Linked DNA regions of Homo sapiens. Each later gene encodes a partner of the first gene's protein in a complex. Each region holds a gene or a part of one and is shown in the gene's direction. Other genes may lie near its edges.

Region 1 (5,788 bases):
GGACTACTGAGGAGATTTCTAGGAGAGAAATTAGGTGGAGCTAGAATAGAGCCTAGGAGTTGTTAATGGTGAAGAAGAGGGGTTTGAGGTTCCAGACTAGCTGCAAAGGCTGTAGTTGTTATGGATGCCTGATTGTACACCTTCTTCCAAGACTATAACCTATAGGAAGAAGGGTCCTACAAGAGCTTGTCACCCTTTTGCCCCCCACTGCTTCTCTGTCCAGTTAGGTTTTCTGGCAGGAGAGCAACACAGATAGCAATGAGTGACACTTCTCTGAGCTGCTTAGTAAACCCACTGTTGTCCATTCCTGTCTGTATTAGTTATCTATTGTTATGTAAATTAACAAATTAACCTAAAGCTTAGCAGCATAAACTACACCACTCACAGTTTCTTTGGGTAAGGAATCTGGGAGTGGCTTACCTAGGTGGTTCTGGCTCAGGGTCTTCATGAAGCTGCAATCAAGGAGTTGGCAAGGTAGGTCTGCATTCATATGAATCTTAAGTGGGGCTGGAAGATCTGCTTCCAAGCTCTCTCACATGCCTGTGGTTTGGAAGCCTAAGTTCTTTGCCCCATAGACCTTTCTTTTTTCTTTTTCTTTTTTCTTTTCTTTTTTTTTTTTTTTCTGAGACAGAGTTTCACTCTTCTTGCCCAGGATGAAATGCAATGGTATGATCTCGGCTCACCACAGCCTCGCCTCCTGGGTTCAAGCGATTCTCCTGCCTCAGCCTCCCAAGTAGCTGGGATTACAGGCATGCACCACCTGATTTTTTTGTATTTTTAGTAGAGACGGGGTTTCTCCGTGTTGGTCAGGCTAGTCTCGAACTCCCGACCTCAGGTGATCCGCCCGCCTCGGCCTCCCAAAGTGCTGGGATTACAGGCGTGAGCCACCATGCCCGGCCACCCCATAGACCTTTCTATAAGACTGCTCACAATAAAGCAACTGGCTTCCCCAGAGCAAGTAACCCAAACAAAGACAGAAGGCATGGTTTTTAAAATAACCTAATTTTGGAAGATACTACTTTTGACATATTCTATTGGCCAAACAGACCAACTCTGGTACAAATTGGGAAGAGACTACACAGAGTAGGAATACCAAGAGGGTGGGGCTCATCCTGGGGCTGTCTTGGAAGATGACTGCTATACTCTCTCGAAAGCTAAGGCTTTATAGAAATGAAGGCTTAACACTTCTAAAAAGAAGTTTACCTAAAAATTTGAGTTTCTTGGTTGAAAATGATAAGATCCTTAAAACCATATTTGACTCAGGTGCTGTTTCTTCCTGTTAGATATTACTGCAATGTCTGTGACTGTGTGGTGAAGGACTCCATCAACTTTCTGGATCACATTAATGGAAAGAAACGTAAGGCTTGGAGGTAGCTTGTGACTAGGGCTGGAATTGGGTTTTGGAGGTGGGGTGGAATGGAAGGGTAGCTTTTTTTTTCTTCTTTTTACTCATCAAAAGATGGCTGGAGTAAGAAGGGTAGTTTCTACTGGGCTCTTTTTTGATGCCCCTATTAGAACTCTCCAGTTGTTTCAGCACAGGCCGTCTTTTACTTCATTATGTAATATTTCTGGAGGCCGTGAGGTAAGAGGCCTCATTCTGGAGGCCATGAGGCTTTCAACAGCACCCAAACCATGTGCTGCTCCTGGACCCAGCTGGCCAAGGGAGTTTCTTTTAGCCATAATTATTTTTGCTGTGTGTTTTATGAGATGTCAGAGAAGTCAGGAAAATAATTTTTGAGGGGCTGAGGATGTTGTAATGAACTTGCCTTCTTCACTGTTGACCCTATGCAGATCAGAGAAACCTGGGCATGTCTATGCGTGTGGAACGTTCCACCCTGGATCAGGTGAAGAAACGTTTTGAGGTCAACAAGAAGAAGATGGAAGAGAAGCAGAAGGATTATGATTTTGAGGAAAGGATGAAGGAGCTCAGAGAAGAGGTAAGGGTCTCCTATCCTTCCCCTCTCCCCCAGATTTGAGTTTTATGTTATGAATCATGGGAGACCCTGTCCTCATCCCACTCCTACTCCCACCCCCAGAGTTGTATCTCCTGAGTTCTGTATATTAGCGGAAACATTTGTTGCCTTTGTTTAGGATTCTCATGATCTGAAGGAAATGGCTCTGAAACTACTTTTTTCTCCTAGACTCTCTGGGCCTTATTTTTTTTTTTGTAATTTAAAAAAAAATTTTTTTTTTTTTTGGTCATACAGATATTTCTCAACTTCTGATGGGGTTACCTACTGATAAACCTATCATCAAGTTAAAAATATCATAAGTCAAAAATACATAATACACCTAACCTACTGTAGTTTAGCCTAGCCTACCTTAATGTGCTCAGAACACATTAGCCTACAATTGACCCAAATTATCTAACACAAAGCCTATTCTATAATAAAGTATTCATCTCATTAATTTATTGAATACTGTACTGAATGTGAAAAACAATGGTTGTATGGATACTTGAAGTACAGTTTCAAATGCATGTCAGTTTTTCACCATTATAAAATTGAAAAATCTTGTCAGCATCATAAGTTGAGGACTGTCTCATCTGTATTCTTTGATTTAATTTTTTTAAAAGACTAAACTTTTTTTAGAGGAGTTTAGGTTTGCAACAAAATTGAGAGGGAGTTATAAAGATTTCCCATATACCCACTGTCCCCCACAACATGCATAGCCTCCCCCATAATTTTTTTTTTTTTTTAACTGCAAGAGGAATTAACTAAATGTACCTAGTCCTAAAGAGACCCATGAAATCAGGCTGACTGGGTCAAAATTCTGTTTCTTCCACTTACTGGCTGTGAATCTTGGGCAAGTTATATAACCTCTTTGTGCCTCAATATCCCCATATTAGAGATCTTAATATACATGAAGTACTCAGAGCAATTTCTGGCATGTACTGCATGCCCCAGAATGTTAGTTGTTGTTACAAACAACATTTGGCTGAGGAGTCTAAACTGATTCTGAGTGATTTTTCCCTCCAGGAGGAAAAGGCCAAAGCGTACAAGAAAGAGAAACAGAAGGAGAAGAAAAGGAGGGCTGAGGAGGACTTGACATTTGAGGAGGACGATGAGATGGCAGCTGTGATGGGCTTCTCTGGCTTTGGTTCCACCAAGAAGAGTTACTGAGGCTTTCTGTGCTTGGCCTGACTTTGGCCTATGCTGGACCTAACTTTGCGTGTGTGTGTGTGTAGTAGGGGGTCATTTCTTTTTGGGTAATGGGAAAGTTCTTAAGAGTGTCAATGGGGAGGGATAGAGGGTGGGGGCTCATGGTTTCCCTCTACTTTGGGAGAGGGCACAGATTGCAGAGGTAATGCTGTGGCATATTGCTTCTGCCTCAGTGTATCACTGGAGTCACAGGACCCTGCCCACCTGAGTTCCCAATAAAGAAAAACCTCCCCTTCTGAGGCTGCTTTCCCAAAACTCCCCCTGCATCTTTATCTCTTCATCTATCCCACCTCTTGTCTGAACATCCCACCTTTATCCTGTGTTCTGCCTTTGTTTTAATTTTAACTCATGTTCATCCTGCAACAGAAGCATTCTCTAGGTCCCAGTTTCCAGTTGATTGCATATCCTTGATCAGCCCTTTTTCCCATCCTGCCCTATGGTTCTCTAGCCACCTGTGCATGCATGTGTATTTCTGCCTGGTTCTATGGTGTGTGGATGTGTGTGCATGAATCTGTCATATAGAGGGGGTCCGAGCTGGAATCCTAGAGCATTGCTGCCCTGGGGCCTGATGTTCTTGGCTTCCTCAGAGCATGTAACAGGAAATTAAATGGGATGAGTGTTTGGTGTGGTTTGTGTCTGATGAGTTTTTTAACATTCAGGTGTAGATTGTTTCAGCTTCTCATGTTTCATTTTCCTGAAGATTTATGTTTTTGTCTACCTTGTGAGCAGGCTTTTGGAAGAACCTGTTTGATGCAAAAAAGAAAATGAAAAACAAAACAAAAAATCCCCAAAACCTTATTATGGGAGCCCGTCGGTCTTAGAAGCTGTTTGACATGTATAATAAATGGCATTGACTGGGCCTGTTTTACATTTGGTGAGAACATTCCATAATCTTCCCTGTGAATATTTGTTTTTCCTTCTCATGCTGAGGATTTCCATATAGAGTATTTTATTCTTCCATTTTAAATCTTATTTTTGCCTAGGTTTTTTTTTAGCATGAGTTATGTTTTCGTCTGATAAGGGATCTATGTCCAGAGAAGTCTGAACCAAAACGATTCCTATCATTTCAGACTCCTTTGATCTTTTGTTTTTGGAACAGCAGAGCTCAGGATTGAACATAATGTTTTTTCTTTTTTTTTTTTCTTTTTTTTGAGACAGTCTTGCTCTATCGCCCAGTCTGGAGTGCAGTGGCGTAATCTTGGCTCACTGCAACCTCCGCCTCCTGGCTTCAAGTGGCTAATATTGTATTTTTAGTAGAGATGGGGTTTCACCATGTTGGCTAGGCTGGTCTCAAACCCCTGACCTCAGGTGATCCACCTGCCTCGGCCTCCCAAAGTGCTGGGATTACAGGCGTGAGCCACTGCACCTGGCCCTTAGTGTTTTTCTTACTGTCTGCTAGACACAGAATTACTTAATTTTGGCACTGTTGAGATTTTGGGCCAGATTATCATTTGTTGTAGAAACCAATGCTGGCATTGTAGGATGTTTATTATTTTGATTTTGATTTAGGATTAACTTCATCCCTGGACTCTACCTGCTAGATGCCAGTAGCACCCTCTTCCACAATTGTGACAACTAAAAATGTCTATGCCTCTGAGAAAGGCAAAATCCCTCCCTACCCACATTGAAGACCACTAAGAAGAAGCTAGCTGTCTTCCCTACCTTGGTCTGATTTGAGAATTAGATGGCACAGACTGGCAAACTCAAAACAGAAACTCACAAAACTTTGATATCCACTGGATCAAGTACTATGCCAAGTCAAGGGGATGCAGAAGAAAAAAATAGCCATACATACACGAAGAACTACAGTCACATTAACTTCAAGCAGATGAAGCCTGTAACTTGCTGGTTCTATACCCTGAAAAAATGGACCTGTAAATGAATCTGTTTGGGTTAACAAGGCTGCCACCATATAGCTGGTTTTCATTCTCTGCCCCATCAAGCTCCTCAACTTTCTGTATTATCTGAACCACAAAGCACCATACACCTCCCTTTGGACTTTTGTACAAAATTCCCTTACTGTAAGACATGCCCTTTGTCTAATTTCTGATGCTGAATCTTGCCACTGGGAACACTGAATGTATCTTCACCTATGGGCTGAAGGCCTGGCTCAGTTTTAGATACAGTAAGTACTGGGCAACTGGGGGCAGATTGGTGCGTGCTTTCCTTGGCAGGATTATGTGCACTTCAGGTCCCTTGGGTGACAGTCTTCTTGTTGACTAGGTATTTTGTTACCCCTTTCAAGGCAGGCTGGAGGTTTGTGAGTTCCTTCCATGGTTCAGTTTTTTTTTTTTTTTTTTTTTTTTTTTGAGAGTGTCACTGTCACTCAGGTTAGAGTACGGTGGCACGATCTCAGCTCACTGCAACCTCCACCTCCCAGGTTCAAGTGATTCTCCTGCCTCAGCGTCCTGAATAGCTGGGATTACAGGTGGCCGCCACTATCCCCAGCTAATTTTTTTGTATTTTTAGAAGAGATGGCGTTTCACCGTGTTGGCCAGCTGGTCTTGAACTCCTGACCTCAAGTGATAGCCCTCCTCGGCCTCCCCAAGTGCTAGGATTACAGGCATGAGCCACCACCCCTGGCTTCATTCTTCAGGAAACCATCTAGTTCAATTTAGCTTCAAAGA
Region 2 (5,116 bases), on another chromosome or scaffold:
CCTCCCCTCTAGGACACCACTAGCCATGAGAATTCTCAGGTTTTATCCCAGTCTTAGATCAGTGTCACGTTTACTACCTAATGTGAAAGAGACTGGGAAACATTGTGTCCTTTGTAGTTAAGAATGTTAGTGTTTCTGGGCACTGTGCTAATTGATTCCATTTAATTCTGTTTTTTGTTGTTTTTTTTTTTGAGATGGAGTCTCACTCTGTCGCCCAGGCTGGAATGTAGTGGTGCAAGCTTGGCTCACTGCAACCTCCGCCTCCTGGGTTCAACCAATTGTCTTTCCTCAGCCTCCCGATTAGCTGGGATTACAGGCGCATGCCACCACGCCCAGCTAATTTTTGTATTTTTAGTAGAGATGAGGTTTCACTATGTTGGCCAGGTTGGCCTCGAACTCCTGACTTCAGGTGATCCGCCTGCCGTGGCCTCCCAAAGTGCTGGGATTACAGGCATGAGCCACCGCACCTGGCCTTCATTCCATTTAATTCTTGCAGCTGTCCAGCCTTGTGGTACTGTTTTCATTTTACACACGTGGAAGCAGGCTTAGAGAGATGAAATGGTGAGTCTAGATCATATGGCTCGTAGCCCATGCTTTTCACATATGCTAAGCCATAGTGCCTCTCTCTAGCCCTCTTTTTCTTAAGATAGCCTGTTATATTTCTAGAATATCTTAGGATACTCTGCAGACTGAAATTTGGGGATAGGGCTTTTGGTCAGCTTATACCATATTTGTATTTTTTCCCAAACCTTATTGGAGCTGGGTTTTTTTTTTCCCCTCAGGTATTGGCCATGTCAAGCCGCTCATGGTTGAGCTATTCTTACCAATCTCGCTTCCATCTCACCCCACTGTCTTACGAGACACTGGAATTTGCATCGGGTTTTGCCTCGGAACAGTGTCCCGAGGGCATTGTGGCCATCTCCACCAACACCCTACGGTGAGTGAGTCTCATGTTTGAAGCTCAGCAGGAAGCCTTTCTGCCAAGGGCTCAGACTGGTTCTGCCAGAGTGTTGGAGGAGGCTGTGAAGAGGTGGCAGAGAGCCGACTTCACCATGAAGCTTGTGTGTTGCAATTGAAACCTTCATTTGGCTCAGCATTTTAGTACCTGAGAGCCAAGTTTCGGTGTTTTAGCTTCTGTTAAGATTTTCAAGGCCAAGCTTTAATACAGTCCAATCTTCCTGAGATTTCAGATTTTTGTTTTCTAGCAAAAGGGTATTGCCATTGGATTAGTTTTAGAGCAAGTATTGGATCACTGCATTGATAACCTTTCTTACTCTGTCTTGTCATTTGCGGTATTAAATCTTAAATGTTAACCTATCTATAAGTTATTTAGACCTTTTTCAAGTTGACAAAACTGTTCTTCCTGGTAATATTGATGTGAAGTTTGAGCACTGTATGTAATATTCTTTGCAAGATGGAAAAGAACCTAAAATAATTCAGTCAGTTTGGCTTCCTCAGGTTTTGGGGGGCTTTTAAAATTAAGCCACCAAAGTTGTTCACATCCTGGTTATAACTATTGGCTGTTCATAATGAAACTATGGCCTCTTGATAGATTAATCACTATTGCTTATCAAATGAGCTCCCAAAATTTCTTTGCAACAACTTTCAGGGTCTTTTCATGGTCATTGTCCTTTTTCTTTCCGTCATCTTTGTATTTATCTTCTGCTCCAGCAGAATTGATCTCCCTGCACTGCTCTACATCACTTAATATTTTTTTAATCTCTACCTGTGCTAGAATGCTTCACCCACATACATACCTGCCTGTCAGTGTTCCCCTTGTCTTTTAAGCCAGCCTTGTTGTAGCCTCATCTGTGGCCCCTACCTCCTGAATTGCTATAGATTTAGACAATCGCTACAGATTTTTAGGCTTTCCTAGCAGCAGAACTTACTTCCCCCCAAAACTAAATCAGGGAAGGTGACTTATGAGACATAAAAGCAGAGTTCTTGGCAGGCAGTTTATTTTTTTATTTAATTATTTTTATTTTTAAGTTTTTTTTTTGAGACAAGGTCTTACTCTGTTGTACAGGTTGGAGTGCAGTGGTGTGATCATGGCTCACTGCAGCCCCAACTTCCTGGGCTCAAGCTATTTCTGCCTCAACCTCCCAAGTACCTGGTGGGACTGTAGGCGCATGCCATCATGCCTGGCTAATTTTTGTGTTCTATTTTATAGAGACAGGATTTCACCTTGGTGCCCAGGCTGGTCTTGAGCTCCTGGGCTCAAGAGATTCTCCCACCTCAGCCTCCCAAGTAGCTGGGACTACAGGCGTGCGCCACCATACATGGCTTTTTTTTTGGTATTTTCAACAGAGTTGGTGTTTCACCATGTTACCCAGGCTTGTCTTGAACTCCTAGCCTTAGGTGATCTGCCTGCTTTGGCCTCCCAAAGTGCTGAGATTACAGGCGTGAGCCACCACACGCAGCCCCTATCTTTTTTAATGTAGAGAATAAACTACAAATAAAACTCCATCATTAGAGATCGGGTAACTATACTTTTCAGAGTACCTGGGTTCTGCTCATTTTGCACATAGTTTGGCTTATGTGTACATCTCTGTCCCATTTGACAGAAATTTGTAGGTCCCTTATTTGCTGTCTCTTGCATTGTCATAGTTTTCCTGAACTGAGGTGATTTTTGTTCACAAAGGTATCCACTTTATTTTATGAAGCACAGTCACTACAAATACCATATATGTTTAGGTAATTGCAGTGTTTCACAACAAATTTGGGATTGGGCTCTTTATTATCATTGGAGTGATTAAAAAAAAACTTTTGACAATCGTTTGTGTTTCATTGGTAGGAACTAGAACTGCTGTGAATTGTGGTAGGGTGTTGCCAAATGGGAAGGCCCTTCCTGGATCTCTGTGTCTGCATCGCAGAGTTTTCTAGAGTAGGAGGCTGTTGTTTAATGTTGCCTAATGCCAACGTTAGAGCTCCAGGGATTGACGTGTTTGCTGACTGCTCAAAGTCTATTTCAACACCAGTTTCTGGGTCCGAGTGAGTATTAAATAACTGCCTTGCTTTTTTGTCATAGGATTTTGGCATTAGAGAAGCTCGGTGCTGTCTTCAATCAAGTAGCCTTCCCACTGCAGTACACACCCAGGAAATTTGTCATCCACCCTGAGAGTAACAACCTTATTATCATTGAAACGGACCACAATGCCTACACTGAGGCCACGAAAGCTCAGAGAAAGCAGCAGATGGCAGAGGTAATGAGACTAACGTTCAGGGGTTCTATTAAAAGATGTGTGAAATTATGTTGAAAAGTTTAAACTGCCCGGCACTTTGGGAGGCTGAGGTGGGAGGATTGCTTGAGGCCACTAGTTCGAGACCAGCCTGGGCAACATAGCAAAACTGCACCTCTATTAAAAATTTTAAAAGATAGCCTGGTGTGTTGGTGCACTCCTGTAGTCCCAGCTACTTGGGAGGCTGAGGCAGGAGGATCACTTGAGCCCAGGAGTTCAAGACTGCAGTGAGCCATGATCATGCCACTGCATACCAGTGGCACTCTGGACACGAGACTCTATCAAAAGTTTAAACTCCTGTAATTGTTAGTATATTCTTTGTTTTTAAAGATCTAGGCTTTTTTCAGCTTTTTTAAGCAGAGGCCTTTGCCCCAAAGTACTTCATTTTAGAGCCTTTCTTGTAACCCAGGACTATACTCTGACCTCCATTTATTCACAATTAAGTTCCCTCTCTGAAACAGAATTCTCCCGTCCTTGAGCTTCCAAAATAGACTGTATTTCCTTTATTTGGGCCCAAAAGAGACAGCTTTCATGTTCTCCACAACACCAGCTCTTTCTAGAACTCATTGCCTAGCAGAAACCAAATAGCTACAACCACGTAGAACTGTATCCATCCTTAAAGAGTGGAGACAGAGTAGTTTTAGTAAGGGAAATCAGATGGGTTGGATAGAAAAGTGGAGTTTCCGTTGTCATTTTTCTCAAGCCACTAGTCCAATATTTGTCACAGCTATTGTTATTTTTGGTGTTTTCTACTAATATGTAACCAGCAATGTCTGGATTTCCCTTTCTGATCTTCTGTCTTCCCTAGTCTGTACACCTCTCCCTTTAATAGTCATGTCGGGAAATCCTGGCTGGGATGGCTGACTTTGCTGCTTTATGTATTGAGAACCCCCTGGAGTGTTCTTGCTACCTATCCTCTTCTCAGCCAGCCCCTACCTCTGAGCACGCCAACTCAGTTACTCGTTTTTTTGGGTTTAGGAAATGGTGGAAGCAGCAGGGGAGGATGAGCGGGAGCTGGCCGCAGAGATGGCAGCAGCATTCCTCAATGAAAACCTCCCTGAATCCATCTTTGGAGCTCCCAAGGCTGGCAATGGGCAGTGGGCCTCTGTGATCCGAGTGATGAATCCCATTCAAGGGAACACACTGGACCTTGTCCAGCTGGAACAGAATGAGGCAGCTTTTAGGTAAGCAGCCCAGGACAGTCCAGGGTTTGGCAGGCTGGAACAGGAGCTCTCTGAGTTTTGACTAAGGCCTTACTCTTGCTTCTTATTCTGTGTGTAGTGTGGCTGTGTGCAGGTTTTCCAACACTGGTGAAGACTGGTATGTGCTGGTGGGTGTGGCCAAGGACCTGATACTAAACCCCCGATCTGTGGCAGGGGGCTTCGTCTATACTTACAAGCTTGTGAACAATGGGGAAAAACTGGAGTTTTTGCACAAGGTAGGAATCTGCCAGTGGTTCTCCTAGATTTTAAGTCCCATTGAATTCTCTCACTTTTGCTTATGTTATGGATCAGGTCTTTTGGGGACCAGCTCCTTGATTCCAATCTCTCTCTTACCAGCACATGGAAAATGCTGGGGCCTTCTAGCTGCAGTGATGTTCTTGTGCCTGTGCATTCCACAGGAAGGCTTTGTGCTAACCATCCATAATGGGGAGATAGATGCACATTCAATTGGTCTCTTTCTTACTGTTTTAATAAGCAGGCAACAATTTGTGACCAAAATTCAGCAGTTTAAATAATTAATATTCTGGCTGGGCGCAGTGGCTCATGCCTGTAATCCCAGCACTTTGGGAGGCCGAGGCAGGCAGATCACCTGAGGTCAGGAGTTCGAGACCAGCCCGGCCAACATGGTGAAAGCCTGTCTCTACTAAAAATACA

Evidence for each region. Proteins that work in one complex are often made in the same cells at the same time.
Region 2: ZMAT2 (region 1) and SF3B3 share a complex: the UniProt entries of both Homo sapiens proteins name them as parts of the spliceosome B complex.

The regions. Positions count from the first base shown.
Region 1 is NC_000005.10:140,702,635-140,708,422, forward strand, and holds the end of ZMAT2 (zinc finger matrin-type protein 2), read left to right. Parts: intron 1-1,283; coding exon 1,284-1,357; intron 1,358-1,791; coding exon 1,792-1,937; intron 1,938-2,978; coding exon 2,979-3,122; 3' UTR 3,123-4,052; downstream 4,053-5,788. UniProt on the Homo sapiens protein: Involved in pre-mRNA splicing as a component of the spliceosome.
Region 2 is NC_000016.10:70,560,848-70,565,963, forward strand, and holds part of SF3B3 (splicing factor 3B subunit 3), read left to right. Parts: intron 1-782; coding exon 783-937; intron 938-3,028; coding exon 3,029-3,203; intron 3,204-4,217; coding exon 4,218-4,423; intron 4,424-4,520; coding exon 4,521-4,677; intron 4,678-5,116. UniProt on the Homo sapiens protein: Component of the 17S U2 SnRNP complex of the spliceosome, a large ribonucleoprotein complex that removes introns from transcribed pre-mRNAs.